Homo sapiens: one gene and its partners. The protein of the gene in region 5 purifies or fractionates together with the protein of the main gene of each other region. This does not show direct contact. Each region holds a gene or a part of one and is shown on either strand. Other genes may lie near its edges.

What was found.
Region 1: the proteins of PCDH7 (region 5) and PSMD5 purify together in Homo sapiens (affinity purification with mass spectrometry; one large-scale study listed by BioGRID and IntAct). This does not show direct contact.
Region 2: the proteins of PCDH7 (region 5) and CEP350 purify together in Homo sapiens (affinity purification with mass spectrometry; one large-scale study listed by BioGRID and IntAct). This does not show direct contact.
Region 3: the proteins of PCDH7 (region 5) and HTR2C purify together in Homo sapiens (co-immunoprecipitation; one large-scale study listed by IntAct). This does not show direct contact.
Region 4: the proteins of PCDH7 (region 5) and ABCG2 purify together in Homo sapiens (affinity purification with mass spectrometry; one large-scale study listed by BioGRID and IntAct). This does not show direct contact.
Region 6: the proteins of PCDH7 (region 5) and TUT7 purify together in Homo sapiens (affinity purification with mass spectrometry; one large-scale study listed by BioGRID and IntAct). This does not show direct contact.

Annotation. Positions count from the first base shown.
Region 1 is NC_000009.12:120,815,553-120,818,922, forward strand, and holds the end of PSMD5 (26S proteasome non-ATPase regulatory subunit 5), read right to left. Parts: intron 2,612-3,370; coding exon 2,354-2,611; 3' UTR 501-2,353; downstream 1-500. UniProt on the Homo sapiens protein: Acts as a chaperone during the assembly of the 26S proteasome, specifically of the base subcomplex of the PA700/19S regulatory complex (RC).
Region 2 is NC_000001.11:180,017,310-180,020,809, reverse strand, and holds part of CEP350 (centrosome-associated protein 350), read right to left. Parts: intron 862-3,500; coding exon 1-861. UniProt on the Homo sapiens protein: Plays an essential role in centriole growth by stabilizing a procentriolar seed composed of at least, SASS6 and CPAP. Required for anchoring microtubules to the centrosomes and for the integrity of the microtubule network.
Region 3 is NC_000023.11:114,590,586-114,594,085, reverse strand, and holds part of HTR2C (5-hydroxytryptamine receptor 2C isoform a precursor), read right to left. Parts: intron 1-3,500. UniProt on the Homo sapiens protein: G-protein coupled receptor for 5-hydroxytryptamine (serotonin).
Region 4 is NC_000004.12:88,106,640-88,110,139, reverse strand, and holds part of ABCG2 (broad substrate specificity ATP-binding cassette transporter ABCG2), read left to right. Parts: intron 1-2,873; coding exon 2,874-2,956; intron 2,957-3,500.
Region 5 is NC_000004.12:31,139,869-31,143,368, reverse strand, and holds part of PCDH7 (protocadherin-7 isoform d precursor), read right to left. Parts: intron 897-3,500; coding exon 520-896; 3' UTR 1-519.
Region 6 is NC_000009.12:86,291,911-86,295,410, forward strand, and holds part of TUT7 (terminal uridylyltransferase 7), read right to left. Parts: exon of another isoform or gene 3,388-3,500; intron 1-3,387. UniProt on the Homo sapiens protein: Uridylyltransferase that mediates the terminal uridylation of mRNAs with short (less than 25 nucleotides) poly(A) tails, hence facilitating global mRNA decay. Essential for both oocyte maturation and fertility.

The DNA of each region.
Region 1 (3,370 bases), on a different chromosome or scaffold from region 5:
CAAGTGCCTAACATAAAATCAATGCTAAGAAATGGTAGCTATTATTAGTAATAATGATAAAGAATTTTGCAAAAATTTCCCTTTAAATCCTAGGCGTTGGTCATATTGAATTACTTGTAGTTTCTCAAACATGTTCTCTTGTTTTCATGTGTACCTGCTGTCTTGCTTTGCTACTCCACTGTATTCTTCACTTGATTGCCTCCTACTAGTTCTTCAAGATGCAGGTGTTTCCTTCCCTGGAAAACATTTCCTAAAGTCAGGGGACGTGTTTTCTGTTTTCCTCTATTATTGTACTTCTTATACTCTCTAATTTTCTATTGACCTATTTTCTTCCAATATAAGACACTTTCTTCTTGTGTGATTTTCAGATAAGCTACTAAAGTCTTGGTTTCCTCATCTGTGAAACAGGGATGTAAAAATTAAATGAGATGCACTTGGCACTTAGGCCAATGTCTAGCACCTTCCCCAATCCCAAGAACATAATAGGCAGTCAACAGGTGTTTACTTATGAAATGAAAATAATGATTTACAAATTTTATTCAATCTAAAAAAAAAATCAGAATGTGTAGACCATACATAGGAGAGAGGGCATCCCCCCAAAATCTGATGTTAAGTGAATAAAATCAATGTCATGAAGCAGAATGGTGGTTGCCAGAGGCTGGGGAAAAGAGGGAATAGACAGTTATTGTTTAATGAATACAGTTTCAATTGTATAAGATGAAAATAATTCTGAAGATGGATGGTGGTGATGGTTGTACAACTTATGAACATATGTAATATACTGAACTGTACACTTAAAATAGTTATGACAAATTTTATTGTATATATTGCACCACATTGAAAAAAAATCAACATCATGAATGAGATTAAAACAAAGGTCATTTTAAGAGAATATTTCTCAGGCCAGGAAAGACCTGGTTATAGCCTAATTAGTAGTGATATTAACAGTAGGGGACTAGTCAGCATGGAAACACACACAAAAAACAGAGTCACGTTGCCAGGGGAGATGATCAATCTGGGGACTAGATAATTCCAGTCACTTTAAAATAATTTTGTTACAAAGCAGGGGTGGTTTATCAACTTCACCACGGCCTAAAAGAAATATGCTCATGCATAAACCTCTGAACAGGTGATTTGGTGTGCAGAGTGCTTTGGCTTTGCTGTTTAGAGAGAAGAACACTGGAAAACAGGTGGGTGTAGGTGTTGTCAATGAAAAGAAAGATTATCCTTTGTAAATTAATGAGATGGTATCCTGATTTATGCATATGTCCCTTCTGTTCTGAGTCTGTTTATTAGGAGTAAGTTTCCCTTTCTCTGATCAACTCAAGATTGACTTTATAGGTATGAAAAATCCAAAGCAAAACCCTCAGCAATCATGACCTACCAATAAATGAAATGACAGTTTAGGAATCCTTCTGATCCCCCAAAACCACAACAGGGCAAAGTTCATTGGTAAACAGCAAAAAAAATTACATGAACACTATAAACATTTTTTAGATATTTTGTCTTTTTTTCAAAGGAATAATAGTAACAAAAAAACAAGAGAGCTCATAAAAAGTATTCTGAGTATAAGGAACATAATCTTAATATTCCATACTACTCATTTTTCAAAGAATATATCCAAGACTTTGAAAGTGGAATCAGAAATGGAAAAAGGACCAAAAAGAAAAAAAAAGATAGTGAAGAGAATCCAGAAATAATTTGGTGGCAGGTTTTTATTTTATTCATTTATTTTTGAGACAGAGTCTTGCTGTGTTGCCCAGGCTGGTGTGCAGTGGCAAGATCTCAGCTCACTGCAACCTCTGCCTCCCAGGCTCAAGCGATTCTCGTGCCTCAGCCTCCTGAGTAGCTGAGATTATAGGTGTGCGCCACCATGCCTGGCTGATTTTATATTTTTAGTAGAGACAGGGTTTTGCCATATTGGCCAGGCTGGTCTTGAACTCCTAGACTCAAGTGATTTGCCCATCTTGGCCTCCCAAAGTGCTGGGAATTATAGGTGTTAGCCACCGCGCCCAGCCCTGAAGCAGGCTTTTAGATAAGATTGCATGTCCATGAAAATTTTGAGGGAAGAAAAAAACTTCCACCCTGTTGCAAAGATTAAGGCAGTGAAAGGAATCTGAAAAACACTGGATCTATTATGACCAAGCTTGTCTGCTCTTAATGCATTCCAAACTCCTAGTTCCACTTTGCATTTCAATGTAGAAATATAACAGTGTTGGTAACAAAGTAACATCTGACATTCCATGATAATTCTTGGGGAAAGGAAGTCTCTTTTGTGAAATATAGATGGAGTCAAATGCCTTAGGAGAAGTTTTGGTCAAAACGTGGTCCTCTACATGAGCTCTAGAAGAAATCATTCGGCTCCTTCTACTGCTGTCGTGGAAACAGGTTTCACATAGTATGGCCCTTCACTCAGGTAAGTTCTGAGCCTCAAATAATTTGGGTTCCCAAAGATTTCTGCAATTGTCTTGGAATTGGCAAGTGCTTTCACTAGTTCATATTTGGCATCCTTTGAAGCTTTGTCATGCTCCACAGACCGGTCCACCACATATTCTACAAAACCTGGACTGTTAAACATAAGTTTCTGAGCCCAGGGTTGGTTTGCAATGGCCTGAAATGGAAGGCAGAAAGAATACAATTCCCCTGAGTGGAAGTTGTTTGTTAATGGGATGGCACAATATTTACAAAGAAATCTGGCAACATGAACTTTAAAAATGTTACCTTTTGTCTAAGTAAATTCCTTCCTGAGAATCTAACTTAATAAAATAATCTTAAATATGAAAAATCTTTGTATACAAAAATGTTCATAATAGTGTGAAAGTTACAATATAAATATCTAATAATGGGAGAATGGTTAAGTAAATTATGGTATATAGCAATAAAAATAAACATTAACAATAATGTTTACAAAAAATAGGAAATGATACAGGTAAACCTGTTATATAAAAAAAGCAGATTCAAATTATAAACAATGCATGATTACAACAGTGGAAAAATAAAAACTAAAGTAGAAAAGACTAACCTCAAGATACTCATATAGTGCACAAACATTTTCAAGAATGTTCATTGTGGTATCATTTGTAAGATACTATCTAAATCTTCATTTATAGGAGAATGATATATTGTGGCTATTCAATGAAATACCAACTTTCTAACTGCCTCTTTTAACATAGACAAATTTTAAAAAAACGTAACATTGAAGAGAAAAAAAAAAAAAGCAAAAACTGCAATTACTTTTGCACCAACCTAATGGAATGATACAAACAGCATGATACCACTTACAAAGTTTATGAATATCTAAAATACTGTGTTTTATTTAAGGATACACACAATATGTAGTAGAAATATGAAATCATTTATGGGCCCTGAC
Region 2 (3,500 bases), on a different chromosome or scaffold from region 5:
AAAATTTCTGCTACTTTCAAAAGGGGCTGTCCATCCTGGTCTCCCTCTTCTTCAGAGAGACTCCCCTCACTAAGAAGAGGCCCTTCACTGACTGAATCTATGCTGGAACCAAGAGATATTTTGGCTTTGTCTTGAGAACAGGCTTGCATATCAGAGCTAGAAGAGTCAGTCTGCCTTTTACATAACTGTGCCAGTAGCCCTTCTGGTTTGGGACCAGGGGATCTCACTCTAAAGCTTGATATGGCACTCTGTGGTCTTATCATCTCAGGAAGCTTTTTAAATTCACTAAGATTGCCTACACCAGGAAGATCATCATCAAAAGTTGCATGAGATACACAGCTTCCCAGCATCTTCTGAATTCTGGCAGAGAAAACATCTTCATTATCATCTTTCACAGGTGGAGTTACAGCCTTGGTCCAAGGTCCATCTTCTTGAGGTGCCTGCTGCACATCATACTCAGTGTTCCATGCTGACCCATAGTTAATGCTGGCCCCAGCTAATTTCTTGGCTTCACTTTCAATTCTGCTGGACAAAGAAGCAGCTGTTGCTTTCAAGGCTTCAATACGATCCAGTTTACTCTTATATTGGCTGGCACTAGGTTTTAACAAGGCATCTGTATAAGCAGCTGGTGAGGTCACATATGGTTGAGGTGTAAAAGTTAATGGCCTTGAAGCCATATTATGATTCTTCCTGGTTGGTAAAATAGATTCAAAATCCTTATGCAAAATTCCTACATGCTCTAAACTCAAGAGATGGGAGAGTAAACTTCCAGCTGTTCCAGCAAAAGGCTGTGGTTGAGAATGGTGAACTTGTGGGCTCAATCTTTCAGGCTGCATCCATGTAGATTCCATCAAGTCTTTTCTGGAAATGAAAGTCACAATATGTTAGTTAACTAAACCACCATTTTAAAAAAGTTTTTTTTTTATCTGATTATAAGAGTAATGAGGATGCACTGCAACAAAAAAAGGACAGATAAAAAATATAAAAAAGATAAAGATCACTCAGCAAAACAATAAAAAAGAGGCACTGTTAATATTTCATTTAGAATTATATCCTTCCAAACATTTTTCTATTTGTACATTATGTTTTGGTGGTATTGTTTGTACAAAAATGGGATTTTACCATATATACTGTTTTGCAAGCTGCTTTTTTCAACTAAGATGCCATATTTTTAAAAAACTATTAAAAAGGCAATAAGATCTTTAAAATTCTATAAACAGAATTCCTTACAATACTGATTATAATTTTTAAAATAACATTACATAAAAGAGAAATGCTTAAAATTGCTAAATATTAATGTAGACATGATATAGATTATTCTAATCAACAAATATTTACTATATGCTGAACACTTATGTTTAACAATGTACATGCTAAATAGGGAGGTTATTATAACCTATTAATACTTGTAAAAAATTAATGAACGTGAAACAATCAAATGCAAAACTATCAGTGCCAACTATAAATATGCAACTATAAATACAAATATACAGGGTAGGGTATCCATTAAGTCTAGAAACAGAATAAAGATGTCCTAAACAACATTATGTGTATTTACCTATATTTCCAGACCATAGACTTCCTCTATATTAAGGGATACTACAGAGAGATTACAGGATGATGTCAACTATTAAGAAGACCCTTAGAGGAACAGGCCAGGAACAGCGGCTGATGCCTGTAATCCCAGCACTTTGGGAGGCCAAAGCAGGCAGATGACTTGAGGCCAAGAGTTTGAGATCAGCCTGGGCAAAATGGCGAAACTCATCTCTACTACAAATACCAAAAAATTAGGTGGGCATGGTGGCATGTGCCTGTAGTCCCAGCTACTTGGGAGGTTAAGGCACAAGTATCGCTTGAACCCGAGAGGTGGAGGACGCATTGGGCCGAGATCGTGCCACTGCACTCCAGCTGGAAGACACAGTAAGACTGTCTCAGAAAAAAAAAAAAAAAAAGAAAGAAAGAGAAGACGAACATGAGGCTTTGTCCTTGGTCTTGTCCATTATTTTAGGATGATGACACAAAGATATGCTTATCAAACTTGCAGATGACAGAAAGCTGGGAGGCATGGCTGACCCAACAAATGACCAAATTATGAGATGAATTTATTTTTATAGGCTGCAATCGTAAACCAAACTAATATGGATAAATGTAAACTTCTGCAATTGGGTTAAAATAAGTCATCTGAAGGGGGGTAACCAGGGTAATAATAAGTTGAAAAGCATGTCATTAGAATGAAGGAAGAAAGACTAGAGCACAGATTCTATGCCTTAGAATATAGGCTATTACAAATGCAAAGTGTGAGGCTATTGGGGCCTAAACTAAGCTGGTAGTAATAGGAATACAAGGGAAGTTATAATATAAAAGATATTGATGAATAAAAATCCAAGAGCTTTAAATTCAAGTATTTAGAATGCCAATTTTATAGCAGGTGATATGTTGATGGTAGAGAAACAGGAGACAAAAATGAATATACTTAATCCAGTTAATCCTGAGCTGGGCATGGTAGCTCACACCTGTAATCCTAGCTACTTGGGAGGCTGAGGCAGAAGAATCAATCACTTGAGGCCAGAAGTTCAAGACCAGCCTGGGCAACATAGCAAGCTCCTCATCTCCAAAAAAATAAAAAACAAAATAAAATTAGCCAGGCGTGGTGGTGCATGCCTATAGTCACAGCTACTTAGGAGGCTGAGGTGGGAGGATCACTTGAGTCCAAGAGGTTGAGGCTGCAGTAAGCTATGATCGTGCCACTGCACTCTAGCCTGTGTGAAAAAGCAAGACCCTGTCTCCAAATTAAAAACAAATAAAAAGGCTTAATCCTTACACTTTAAGATCTCAAGATCTAGCAGGGATGACAAACAAACAGCTAAAATAAGACATCACAAATACTAAAACAAAGATTTAAAAAGTTCAGTAGGGTATAGATGAAGCAGCAATTAACTCTGCTAGCCAAGGAAAGTGTTTGTTAAGCTGGATCTTCAGTTTTCAAGGTGAGATATGAAACCTGGAGTTTTCCAGGTAGTTAACACAATATGCTATAAAGAGTAAGGAAAAGAAATGCCAAATTTTAAGCAAAAAGTAACATGCTTTTAAACATAAAGTTATGCTAAAACTATTAACGGGAATGGGGGAGCTCAGAAGCTGGGTAGCAAGAAAGTGGACGCAATAAGTTAGACATCAGGAGTCAAAGAAGTTGGATATTAAAAGAAAAGTGAGAAACTGGTACAAGGTAGTATGGTCTAACACTAGATTTGTTTGTGTTTGGCTTGCTTTTAATATTGGATAACTTGTTTAGAATTAGAAGGAAATTCAGAGAAAGATAAAAATTGAAGACATTAATATAGCAGGGTATGTCTGACAACAATAGGACTGAGATGAACTAGAGAGTATCACCCATCTAAAAGCATTCAATCCTCTCCAGAGACGACACTTAGAAAAATAAGTAAATAAATAGAAGCATTCAAATTCAAAACAAAAATGTTAAGTTTATTTATACTTAAAGT
Region 3 (3,500 bases), on a different chromosome or scaffold from region 5:
TAATAGCCAAAGATATCTTAAATTTACTTTAAATAACAAAAGACAAAAAGAAGACATGTCTTCAATCACTCAGAAATCTTTAAGACATGAATCATTTCAAATGTAGGGCACTGGAGTGAATGGAAAATGACAAGTTAGAGACCTGAAGTGAATATTGACTTGAGATTTTATAAGAATTACTTAAGTAGCTGAAGAGTCATAACCATTAATCTTCTGGGGCATAAAATCAACTACCTGAGTATTATTATTTGAAGTGGATTTTCAGAATTAGAAACTGTTGATATTTTCTTAAAGTTGTAGCATTTGAAATTATCTCAGTAACCATCCAGTCTGATTTTCTCTTTTGGCGGAGGAGGACATAGAGGCTTATAACAGACTAGAACTTAGGTTCTAGTTAACTCCAAATTTGCACTATAAATACCTTTCCCACAGTGCTTGTGTCTTTTTGTATATTAATTATTCAGCAAATATATGTTGAGAGAAGCCACAATATGTAATGATATATGCAAACGGTAGCTGGGGAGTATAAACATGAATAAATTATAATCTTTGTTCCATGTGAATTTATAATCCAGTAGGAAAGATAAGACTCAAATTTAAAAGTGACGTGATGCATGTAAAACCTTTAACACCAGGCCTGCCTCTAAAGTATAAGTTAAAAACCAAGTAATAAAAATAAAATGCGATAGAAGCCAGGTGCAGTGGCATGCACCTGTGGTCCCAGCTAATCAGGAGGCTGAGGCAGTAGGTTCGCTTGAGCCCAGGAGTTCAAGGTCAGCTTTGGCAACATAGCAAGACTCCATATCTAAGGAAAAAACAATGTAATACAATGTGCTAAGTGCCATGTAAGAGGTGCAAACAATTATGTCTATTTTCTTAAAATTTAAAATGGAAATTCTGGTGTTCTTAAGTATGTGAGTGTAACCTAGATGACTTTTTAAAATATGGCCAGTAGTCTTTTTACACTGCACACACAAAATTATAACACATTTGCATTCTAAGCATTGCTTCTTGGCTTTATAGTCTGTATGATATCCTTCTTCCTCACCCCCTCCAATCAAACCGTACATCTTTCTCTGAATTAAGCATGAGGATTTGTCTGCAGTCATTTCCTAATGTTCCCTGTTAGCTGAAGCTCATCACTTCATAACCCACTTTAGAGTCCCTGGGTTTCATTCTGATATTCAGCAGCTACTTTGGTAGCTGACAACTTTTAGCCTTATCTATGCTCTGCCCAGGAATTGGGTAGCATTATTTGGTGCCATTGTAAAGAGAGTGGGAGATGTGCAGAGTTCAAACATGAGATAGGGAGTTGTCTGAAATGAGCTTTCAATTACTAACCCTAAGAGTCTATAATCACAATGGAATTTAAAAGGTGGCACATTTGAACAACATTTTTCAGAAATAATTCTGAAGCTGTATTAATGGACTGAAATGGGGAATAATTAAGAAAAGTTATCCACGAATGAATCCAAGGTAGGAAGGACAAGCATTATTTCAATTATCATAAGAAATTAAAGAAATCTGGGAGAAGGGATAGAGTGTTTTTTTAATAATTTCTCACTCTATAAGTGTTGTGATAAATGTATTCTGTATTATACTAGAGAAACAAATGAACTTTTATTTGATCTTGTTGCTTCATTCTCAATCAAGAGACTCAGAATATCCACTATGTTTGTACAAATTTGGCTGCCTTTCTGAAAATGGCACTTACCCAAAGTAAAGTATAAATCTATGGTAAAAATTCAAATTACTTTATAACAATGTATTATCTTCTCAGCATTCAAATGTTTTTCACTTTTAAATTCTGAATTAGGTTGGTGCAAAAGTAATTGCGGTGAAAACCACAATGGTGAAAACTACAATTACTTTTGAACCAACCTAATAAAATTTGTGGGAGTTTTCTCCATGTTCTCTTCCCCATTTTATATATTATACAATTTGTGACTCTATATTTGTAACCTTAGGGAAGTCAGTCATATAACCTCAGTGGTTTCTGTATTCTGTATCTGTTTATAACAAAGAGGTTAGTTTGAAGGATCCTTACAGAAAGATTACCTAGTATAAGGCTCTCATTTTGGAGTTGTGGAAACTGAGGCCTGAGTTAAGCAAATGACTGGACCATTTTTTTCTTCATTCATCCTGAGTGAGAGAGTAGGAAAGAGAGAAATCAATGTTGCCTATACCATAAATTGCAAAACTACATTATTACATTGAATTGCCTTTACTGTCTAACAGTACTTATTTGTTTCCTTAGGGAAGTATTGTAGAATATGTTTTTCACCTCATTAGCATCCAACAAAGTGTTAAATGTACATTAAGCCCTCAACTGAAATTCTCTTGCTGAATTTCAACTAAGCCATTGCTGAAATTCCATAATTCTTACAGGCTTTTCTTTATTCATCTTCATCTTACAGTTCACTAATTTGGCAGATAAATATGGACAGTGAATTTTATAGATTTACTTACGTGAAATTTAGGAAATTGGCTGAGGTTTGGTAGTAGAAGCAGGAAAATTTGACACAGACAGTTACCCAGTGAGAGGTGGGTAATAATCCTCCAAACTAAAGAATCTGCCCTTGCTAACTTAAATAATACTTTGGAGAGCAAGTCATTGTATCAATGAATAGTCATTTGGGCGCATAATTCTACCATACAAGTTCTTTTCCATTTACATAGTGATTTTAAAAATAGATATAGAGGTATGATGAAATGACTAAATAAATAAATCTATTGAGAAACCAGCTCATTTCTGCTTTTTCAAAATGAAGTTTCAAAAAATATTTGTTGGAGAGACACCAGATCTTCCTTGTTTTACTTCCTTCAAGAATGAAGTAATCAACTTCTTTCTGAATCTATTTTAGACTAACATTACATTTAAAACTAAAAGATACAGGCCTATTAGACCTCTGGGAGTCATTGACCAACCAAAAATGCTAGAACAATCTACCCACAAGCCACAAAGCATTAAATTAACTGTTTAATTAAGATAAAAAAAACTAATAGATTCATGACGTGATCACTCAGAGCAATTCATTAATACTAATGTCTGATTTCCTTTAACAGTATAAAAAGGAAGGAAATAAAGCTCTTATTTACAAGTTTATTTGCTGCAAAGGCATTTAGGAATTGCTATTTTAAAAAGAAAACTTGCGCTTCTTTCTGAGCCATCAACCCATACCGCAAAATGGGTGCAGAACTCAGTTTGCTAATAAAAAGAGAATTCTATAGCCATGCATGTGGTCAATGAAATGGTCTCTCTCTCATATATGTATATATAATGGTGTATTTCACTGTGAAATGGAAAATAAAACAGTGTGGTAGGGCTAAGCTTTAGCTAAACTAATTTAAGAAGATTTATAATATTTTTATTGCCCTAAAATATGTTCAGAGAAATTACCTGAAATCATTTCAGGGGAAACTGTTATTCTGTTAGATGCCTTGAATTCTTGAATATTATTGTGCAGATGTGCTAAAAATTCTATTTTAGCTCTTCCTTC
Region 4 (3,500 bases), about 57 Mb from region 5:
TTTTTATTCAATGATAAATAAAATGAGCTAAGTGTGGTGGTGCATGTCTGTAGTCCTAACTACTCAAAAGGCTGAGGTGGGAGGATTGCTTGAGACCAGAAGTTTGAGGCTGCAGTGAACTATGATTACACCACTGCACTCCAGCCTGAGTGACAGAGTGAGACTTTGTCTCTAAAAAATAATAAAAAATAAAGTAAAAAACCATTCTTAGCTCATAGGTGAACAAAGATAGGTGGCTGGCCCTATTTGACCTGTGGGCTATAGCTTAATGATTCCTGATTCAGGGTTTATGATTTTGTATGTTGTTTTAATTCTGAGTTCTTGAAAATTGAGTTGTTAAAATGTTTTATGACTCTCTACTGATAAATCTTGAATCTGTTGCTTTACAGCTGCACTTTGGCTTGAACTAGTTATTTCTTTACATGATTCAAACTTGGCCTCTGATAATGCATCTTCCAAAGGTTGTATTTGGAAAATCTTAGAATGAATGGATTATCTGTATGAGAAGATTGCATGTTCATTTAAGGTGCCAAGGGTTTTCTGAACAGCTCAACTTGGAAGCAGATGGGGTCTGTGCACTCCATTGTGCACTGTTTAGTTTGCCTGTTTGTTTTCCTTTCTTTAATGCCAGAAAGAATAACACAGACACACCTTATAAAAGCATGCCAAGGTTACGGGATTGATTATTTTGTCAATATGTTTGAAAGCTGACTTTGAAAACATTTTTAGAACTTTGAAACTTTTAGGAAACATCTTAATCATAATACTCAGTGTTAGTATAAGATAACAAGTTTGAATGAAAACTTGACAAAGCATTTGGAATGTTTAGTTTGAAAAGTCTGGGCCGGGCATGGTGGCTCATGCATGTAATCCCAGTGCTTTGGGAGGCCAAGGCGGGCAGATCATGAGGTCAGGAGTTCGAGACCAGCCTGGCCAACATAGTGAAACCCTGTGTCTACTAAAAGTACAAAAAATTAGCTGGGCTTGGTGGTGGGCGCATGTAATCCCAGTTGCTTGGGAGGCTGAGGCAGGAGAGTTGCTTGAACCTGGGAGCTGGAGGTTACAGTGAGCCGAGATCGCGCCATTGCACTCCAGCCAGGGCAACAGTGCGAGACTGTCTCAAAAAAAAAAAAAAAAATCCTGAATTGAATATTCTTAAAAGTTTTACTGTGTGAAAACGTAGACTCTTGTATGCACATTCATGCATGCCTGTTGATACAGTCATCTGCATTTATTTTGGAAGCTTGGTCTGTTGAAGTATATTCTGAGGGTAATGAAAATATGCCAGCATAATGGATTTCCCCCCAAAATTTCTAAGTGAATTTTAAAAGACAGCTCATAAGTAGAAACATTGGAATAATGTTCTTTCCAGACTAGGTTCTTCACAAACTAGTTATCACAGATGATGGTACTGTTTTTGCAGTTCGGTTTGCTTCATGCCAAAAGTGTCCTTGATCAGTTACTTTAAATCTTGATACCATTAGACTGTTGCAGTATTGAGATTTTGTTTTTTTAACTTTGAAGATTCCAAGATATGGTAGGATATTTTGTCTTCTTTAGATTACCATTTCTTATTTTTTTATTCTTATTTATTTATCAATTTATTTTTTGAGACAGTATCGCTCTGTCGCCCAGGCTGGAGTGCAGTGGTATGATCTTGGCTCGCTGCAACCTCCACCTCTAGGGTTCAAGTGATTCTTGTGCCTCAGCCTCCCGAGTAGCTGGGACTACAGGCGTACACCACCATGCCTGGCTAATTTTTTTGTGTGTGTTTTTTTTTAGTAGAGACGGAGTCTCACCATGTTGCCCAGGCTGGTCTCAAACTCCTGAGTTCAGGCAATCTGCCCCCTCGGCCTCCCAAATTGCTGATATTACAGGCATGAGCCACCACGCCCAGCCCATTTCTTGTTTTTTAATATTTAACTCACGAGTAAATATAAATAGGATTTTCTCAGATAAATTATATCATAACGTAACCCTTAAATTAACCCTTTGCTTATTGAAGTGTCCTTAAGAGACCCTTTATCCTAGAAACAAGATTGGTGTTTGTCCAGTCTCCTTAGGAGCTATAGAAATCAATTGAGTGGTGAAGATAGGTGAGAACAGCAAAGAATTGGCAGCTTAGGTCTGCAGCATTGGCTATAGGCCTCACTGGCTGAAGCGATGAGGAAGCAGTGACAGGAGATGGGTAGTGGAAGCATGCAGTGTGTGCACAGAGAAAGCCGGCCAAATGCTTTGGTGACAGTGACAATGCACTTTTCCAGTGCAGGCATGGACTCCCTAGAGGTTGGATAGGCAGGCTCCATCTCACCCCTATTTCCTCACTGTGCAAAATTCCATTGTTAGAATTTTTTTAATGTGTGCTTTAAAATTTTTATTTATTTTTAATGTTAAGAATAAAGATATCCTGTTTTCACTTTAACCTCTTGAAATATAAAATGACTCATGTTCATTGGCACAAAGGTTGAGAGTTCAGTTCAGGGTCAAAACTCTTAGGCACTTGGACTTTGCTTTGCTACATACTTGCATTGCTCTGCTATCCTGTGTGGTATTCACAAGCTCAGTAACCTGAAGCAGACCCTGAACTGACTGCTGGGTGGTGCAATGGGAGGAAGTCCAGCTTTTCCAGCAGTGTGCTTTGTGTCCTACCACTCTCCCCAAAGCACAGATAACTTAATTTTTAACTTAGGAAGCAGTCTAAATAATGTATGCTGTTTTATTTTCTCCCAGGGACGTTGGCCAAGCCATTGAGTGTTTATCTTAATGGAGAGATCTGATTATGTAACCATATATTATACTAATAAATGGTGTGTATAAGTTTTTATCTCTAATTGAAACTCTTCCCCTTTTTTTGCATTTTTCTTTTTGAAAAGATCATTGTCACAGTCGTACTGGGACTGGTTATAGGTGCCATTTACTTTGGGCTAAAAAATGATTCTACTGGAATCCAGAACAGGTAAGTAAATTTGGATCTTGATTTTCAGAAAATGCTGTTACTTTCTTCAAGCTTATTGAAATCCATTAAGAATTTGAATTTAAGACAAGTATAGTGTAAATGTCATTCTTTTATTGAGGGTAGGATGAGTCAGTTTATTTTTGAGACAGAGTCATGCTCTGTTGCCCAGGCTGGAGTGCAGTGACGCGATCTCAGCTCACTGCAATCTCCGCCTCCCGGGTTCAAGCAATTCTCCTGCCTCAGCTTCCCAAGTAGCCTCGACTACAGACATCCACCACCACGCCCAGCTAATTTTTGTATTTTTAGTAGAGACGGGGTCGCACCATGTTGGCTAGACTGGCTTCGAACTCCTGACCTCAGGTGGGTCCACCCACCTTGGCCTCCCAAAGTGCTGGGATTACAGGCGTGAGCCACTCCACCTGGCCCAATTATTTTTAAATGTACAGTTCAGTGGCATTAAGTACATTTACATTGTTATGCAACTATCACCACCATCCAACTCTAGAATTCTTTTTGTCTTCTCAAGTGGAATATCTGTACCCAT
Region 5 (3,500 bases):
TATCACTTTCAAAGGATTGCCTTTGATGGTGATAAACCATTTTCTGATGGTATGTCTGAAATACATTTTATCTGTCCTGCTTATTTTTGACCAGCCAGATGACACTCGAACAAAATCAAAGTGACTAAAATCATGCTTCAGCTTAGGGATAATGAGGGTGTGTTGTGTTCTGCTAATCAGGCTTCGTACAGTTACTGTGAAAGAAACTTGCAACTATCCCCCTTTTTTTTTCTTTTCTTTTTGTTTTTTTTTTTTTGGAGAGGGGTGGGGAAGAGAAAGTGAGTGTTGGGAATCAGTGAAGGGGTTAGACATGCAAGTAACAAGGATGGTTTCTACATTGTACAGTAGAATCAGGCTAACAGTATCACTAAAGGCCTGATCTGGAGGCAGAAGTGGCAGGCAAAGCTTTGTCTCTTTGGTAGCCCCCTCTTTGTGATTAAACGTTTTGCTTTGTAAGGTTTTTGCCCCTTATTCTCCTTTTCATACATGTAAAGAACTTTGCTGTTGCTCCTTTATAGCCTACAGGTAAACTTCTCTTCTAGTGAGAGTATTGACAGGAGATGGCTTATATTCCCCTGTTTTTGTAAGGGGAATATCCTCAGGGTTGGCTTCCTCATTTTTGCTGAAACTAGCTGCACTGAAGGTCTCATAGGATGAGGTCAACTTTTTGTTCAGGAGGTTTCTGTTGCGGTCACCCATGATGGCGGCCTCCCCATTGGCCAGCTTTTCCTGGCTTCCTCGTTCATCAACAGGCATGAAAGTGGACAGTTTAGGCTGGCTCTTCTTCCTCTCCGGAGAAGTGCGGACCGGCATCCAGCAGGAGTCTGAGTGGCCATACTCATCACACTCACGAGTGCACTTCCCAGTCAGGGCTACATCTGGAAGAGGCCTTGAATCTGAAATCCAAGGAGAATAAGCCATTAGTATTTGACACTCCTCAACAGGCTCCCCTGATCTATATGAAATTAGAGGAAATATATAAATATATTCCTTACCATCTTATTTCTCATTTCCCAACACCCTCTAGCTCATCATTCCATAGGACAGTTTTTAATCCCATGTGCATCAAAGATAAGGTTTTGCAAGGACATCCAATATTATAGAACAGGAAAGTAGACAAAATGATACATTTAAGTGTGTAGATGAAACAGATATATGTGTGTTTGTTACAGGACAGGGACATGAGGATGGTCTCAGTTAGAAGCTCTAAATACATAGGTAAATTTGTATGGGTGCTAATATTTTCCACATCCATAAGAAAAATTATTAAATCCAAATAGACAATTTTCTGGATTTATAAATTATCCCAGAAGTGGTGTGCTTTTGCCAATTGGATTTCTTCCTGCTTATACATTATTCATAGAATGCAAATATGCAAAACCTTATATTTAAAATACATTCTAAGACATGGGGTGACTCATAAGTAGAACCTAAATTGACAGCACATTATGTGGTAAAAACTAAAAAGCAAGGAACCAGTAGTTACAGGTATAAGCATACTAGCAATATCACGCACCTGCCCACCCTAGCCCACATCCCCTCACCCCCCTCCTACCATGCCAAATGACCTAATATGTGCTGATGTGTTCACATCAAAATACACAGGCCATCTTATCTGAAATGTAATGTACTGGGTGAATACGGGTAAGTTACTAAACTTTGGATGAACTAGCCTGTACTCTAATTAATGGTGCTGTCCAATGGAATGGGAAATGACTTTTACTTCTAAAAGGCTAAATCATGTACAAAGAATTCTTAGGAAACAAGATTAAAGATGACAGTTAATAATTACCTGTATGTATAATTGAAAGCATGTGTCTGTCTTTGGAGAATGGTTATGTATTTTCTAAATATTAAACATGTTTTTACAGACTTTGTTTGAGAAAGAGAGAATGGGAGAGAGAAAAGCCTGTTCTACTTCAACAGATTCTGAGGCAATAACCTGAAGGGTTTTATTTAAAATGTTTTATTGTTTTTTATTGCCAAACAAAAGAACATAATATGACTGCATTCCAGTTGTTATCACATGGTATCATTTTATTACAAGGCTTGGGACTTAAAGACTGACGAATTTGACCTCTGAAAATATATTTGCAACCAGTGGAATCAGTGAGATGTGCATATGCACAATCCTAGTAGATTCGTTTAAAATAGAAGAGGAAGTTATTTAAATTATTCCCAAGATATGTACACTTTCTGCTTTTGCTTCCACACCCCATCCCCTGTAGTTTAACATTTGTATAGGATATTTTAGACGTTTTACTTGGCTAAATCTCCTAAATGAAGGCTCGCCACTAATGTTTGTCATTTTTTCCTTCAATGATGGGTAACTGAAGTATTGACATTTGTCGGCCCATCGATTATTGAAACAGCGTCCTGGGATTTTTATGCCCTTGACTAAGCGTTAACAAGGAAATTCTAGTGTTCTACACCGGAAATCTAGAATTAGCTGACCCTTTCCTGTAGGTAAAATGTAAGGTTAATTATTTATTCCAGTTGCCGATGCTGCCATTTGACTTACAAGTGAGCAGATTCTCTTAATTTTTTCATCAAAAGAAAAAAGTACTTTCCCACTCATTTTTTTACCCTAAATTGTCTGTTTCTCAAATACGTATCTTAGATGCATTATAATAATCAAATTATTGACAAATTTTATTAGTGGTTTTTGTAATCTAGTTGGTTTAAATGAACAAACTGCAAGTTCTTTGAGAATATTTCCTATTTTGGGATCCTTTTTTCTTTTCTTTTTTTTTTTTTTTTAACCTGACCTAAATGCTTTGAACAGGGGGAAAAAAGGATAGAAATGCAAAGTGTAAGATCAGGTCTGCATTTTACTCAAAATATTTCCTTTTTTTTTTTTCACTGCTTCAACAAATTCAAATTGCTCCTCTTTTCTTATGATAGTGAATAGCAAGGACATGGGAAAATAATCAGGAATTTAGCTTCTAAAATATAAAAAAATCTTTATGAATGTGGTTGTTATTCCCTGCAGAAATGACCCTGAATTGTCTCCAATCATCTCTCCACATTTATGTCTCACACAATATGTCATTTCACTTACACAGTGACTTATACAGGTGGCTGCTTTTCAGGGATTAATTTGTGTTTTTAGTTTGAAATTCATTGCACTTGTTTTCCTGTTGTTTGAGATGCATTATAAACAGCTTGTAATTCTATATTCATGCTCAAACAAGTCTTCTTACTTTTTAACTTGTGTACCTAAACTACCTACAGCTCATAAGAGATTATAATCATTTATTAAATAGATTGACTGAATCTCCAATCAGCTATAAGTGAGATGCTCTTCAGTTCTTTCCTTCAGTCTTTACTTCACAGTCTGGAGTATTTTCTGCCAAAATTGATTTCCTCTATTGCTTTTAACGAAAGGCAGCTTGTCTTCTGTGCCATCATATACATGCAAGCTGCCACATCTCTATCCAAGAAGCATGACTTTTAATAAGGATCTCCTGTCATTTCCAAAGTAAAACACTTGATTGGGG
Region 6 (3,500 bases), on a different chromosome or scaffold from region 5:
TGTTAATAACAGCAGAATATTGAATACAACCTAAAACTGGGTAATAAATACATAGAATATTTTTTATTCACAGGGTGGAATACTGTAAAGAAAAAAACCCAAATATAAAAACAGCACCATATAAAAGTTTTAAAATAGATGAGGTCTAGCTTGTTGCCCAGTCTGGAGTGCAGTGCAGTGACTATTCACAGGCACTATCATTGCATACTACAGTGTCAGATCTCCCGGGCTCAAGCCATCCTCCTGCCTCAGCCTCCTGAGTGGCTGAGACTGCATGCCCGTGCCACCATCCCTGGTTTGTAGGACATTCTTATTATATGCCATGATATGCCATTTTAATTTAAAAATTCACCAAGGAGAAACATATGTTAAGGAGTACATATGAAAGAGTATAAAAAATGAACCAGAAGGGGCTGGGTGCAGTGGCTCACACCTGTAATCCCAGCTACTTGGGAGGCTGAGGCAGAAGAATCACTGGAACCTAGGAGGTGAAGGCTGCAGTGAGCAGAGATCACACCACTACACTCCAGCCTGGGTGACAGAGGGAGACTTTGTCTCAAAAAAAAAAAAAAGGAAACTTGGAGACTTAACCTCATAATAATGGATGTTTCTAGGGTTGAGAGGGACATGACAGAGGAAACGATGTTGGTGATGGTACTCAAGGCACTTCCACTACCTCAGTGACAGGTCTTTTATTAAAAAAAAAAAAAAAAGAGATTGAGCCAGGCACAGGTGGCTCATGCCTGTGAGCTACTTGGGAGGCTGAGGTGGGAGGATTTCTTGAGCCCAGGAGTTCGAGGTTGCAGTGAGCTATGATTGTGCCACTGCACTCCTACCTGGGTGACAGAGTGAAACCCTTCTCTCTAAAAGAAAAAAAAAATTGAAAAACAATGCCAATTCTCTAGAAGGTAAGTTAGTTATTGTTATACTGCTACTTGCCCGTTTCTGTTTTTCCCAAAATGTTAAACCCTTTGGTAAGTATAGTACTAGTAGTTTTACTACTGTAGCATTTAAACATGTAATCTACTATATCAGAAAAATCTTCACTATACCTGAATATAAAATATTTGCATGTAAAAAAACAAAAGTACTAGAAATAACACATGAATGAATTTTTATATAATATAGAGGAATAATATGGCATTTATAAAATTTGGTAAGCATGATAAGAAACCATGCAAAAGTTGGCTAGATCACACTATTAAAACAAACATTCATCTGTATGGCAAACACATATAAGTGAGGTTAAAATAATAAACTGGGCCGGGTGGAGTGGCTCATGCCTGTAATCCCAACACTTCTGGAAACTGAGGAGGATCATCTGAGCCCAAGAGTTCAAGACGAGCCTGGGCAACATGGCGAGACCCTGTCTCTACAAAAAAATTTTAAAAATCAGCTGAGTGTGGTCTCACTAGCTTATGGTCCCAGCTACTCGGGAGACTGAGATGGGAGGATCGCTTGAGAGTTCAAGGCTGTAGTGAGCTATAATTGAGCCACTGCACTCCAGCCTGGGCGACAGTGAGACCCTGTCAAGAATACTCCAATACAAAAGTACAAAGAAAGATAGATGAAATCATGTAAAAAAAAATGGTAAAGTTCAATGGTAATAATAGGAATTCAAGCAGGTGTAAAATGAAAAAAGACTATCCCAATGAAGTCAGGGTATGGGAAACAATGTCACTGACTCTCCGGGATTGTCAACAATCACAATTTGGGAATATTGGCATCACTGTCAAAATGTGCATACTTTTAAACCTATCATTCTTATGAGCGGGAATTTATCCTGATGAAATAACTAGACAAATATGCGACTATTCATTAGAGTGTTTTATATAAATGGTGCTCTTCCAACCTGGGCCCATGTGTTCCTGAGCCTACCTGACAGGGCATGTGGCTTGATCTCGGCTCACTGCAGCCTCCACCTCCCAGGTTCAAGTGATTCTCCTGCCCTCAGCCTCCTGAGCAGCTGGGATTATAGGCGCACACCAGTACACCTGACTAAATCTGTCTTTTTAGTAGAGATGGGGTTTCACCATGTTGGCCAGGCTGGTCTCGGAACTCCCAACCTCAGGTGATCCACCCGCCTCGGTGTCTCAAAGTACTAGGATTATAGGCGTGAGCCATGGCGCCCGGCCGCAAGGATAGTTTTAAGAGAGTCAATTTCTAGCTCTTCAACTTCCATGTGTACTCTTTCTTAAAAATTATATGTCTGTGAATGCCTTTGTGGTCAAGGCTTAGGCTGGTTTTCAGGAATCACTCCACCTGTCCTTTCTAATTCCCCTTTCACAATTATTTATCTACTTTACAAAAGAAAGGCGTATCTCCTAACCAGCCAAATCCTACTGTGGTGTATTGCCATGAGGCAAAAAAAAAAAAAAAAAAAAACCCAGAGAAGAGGAGAGGCAAACAAAATGCTGGTGTCTGTGGTGAATGTAAATGCCTCTAATAAAAATCCAAATTTTTAGCTTTCATAAAATTACATTGATAGTGGATGATCATTACAAATAATTTTTGATGATACATCACTGTGATTTTTTGTCATGTAATTAAGAAGGAATCAAAATAATTGAGTGGCACTATTGTAATATATCTTCTATTCCCAAACTCAAAGTATTTCTATTATTTTTAATTTGCTATCATAAAGAATATTGGGGTTTTTCCATTTTTATCAACTATAAAAAAAAATTAGGGATAGAAAAGGAACAGTTTCATTCACGCAGTAAATAATGTCGACCCAAAGATATGTGAATGTATAGGGAAAAAATCTCATCTTTCTTATTAAAGTCGTTGTAAGTAAACATAAAAAGTAATTATTATTATTATTTTAATATTTGTTTATTATTATTATATTTTAAGTTTTAGGGTACATGTGCACAACATGCAGGTTTGTTACATATGTATACATGTGCCATGTTGGTGTGCTGCACCCATTAACTCGTCATTTAGCATTAGGTATAAAAAAAAAAAGTAATTTTTAATTAAAATTTGTAACATTTGTTTTGATCAATTATATATTCTAATAATTGTGAAAACTCAATATAGAAGATATTTTCATCCTTTGAGATTTAATAAAAAGCTTAAAAATTCAATTTATAGAAAATAGGGCCTAGCTTGTTGCCCCTGTCATTTTTGTTGCAGATAAGCATGATAAGCTACTCAATAAAATATTTGAAAATATGTGTAATAAAAATATATCATCTCAGGGAGAAGTTCAAACAAACAAACAAAATATATCATCTTATGCTGAAATTCTGTAGAAGTACAACAAAGGAATTCAAGGAGGAAAGGGAAATGATATATAATTTTTGCCTGTTAAAGAAGAGCTGAGCTGTATATAAATGATGGTGGGTATGAAAAAGCAATAATATTTATACTTCATTTGATACATTTAAGGCTGATTTAAAAGTTTTATTTTAAAATGTCAATATTTACAGCCCCCCTCCCCCAAGAAATTACATGCTTTGCAACTACAATGAAAGATTTAGATATCAACTTTAAAA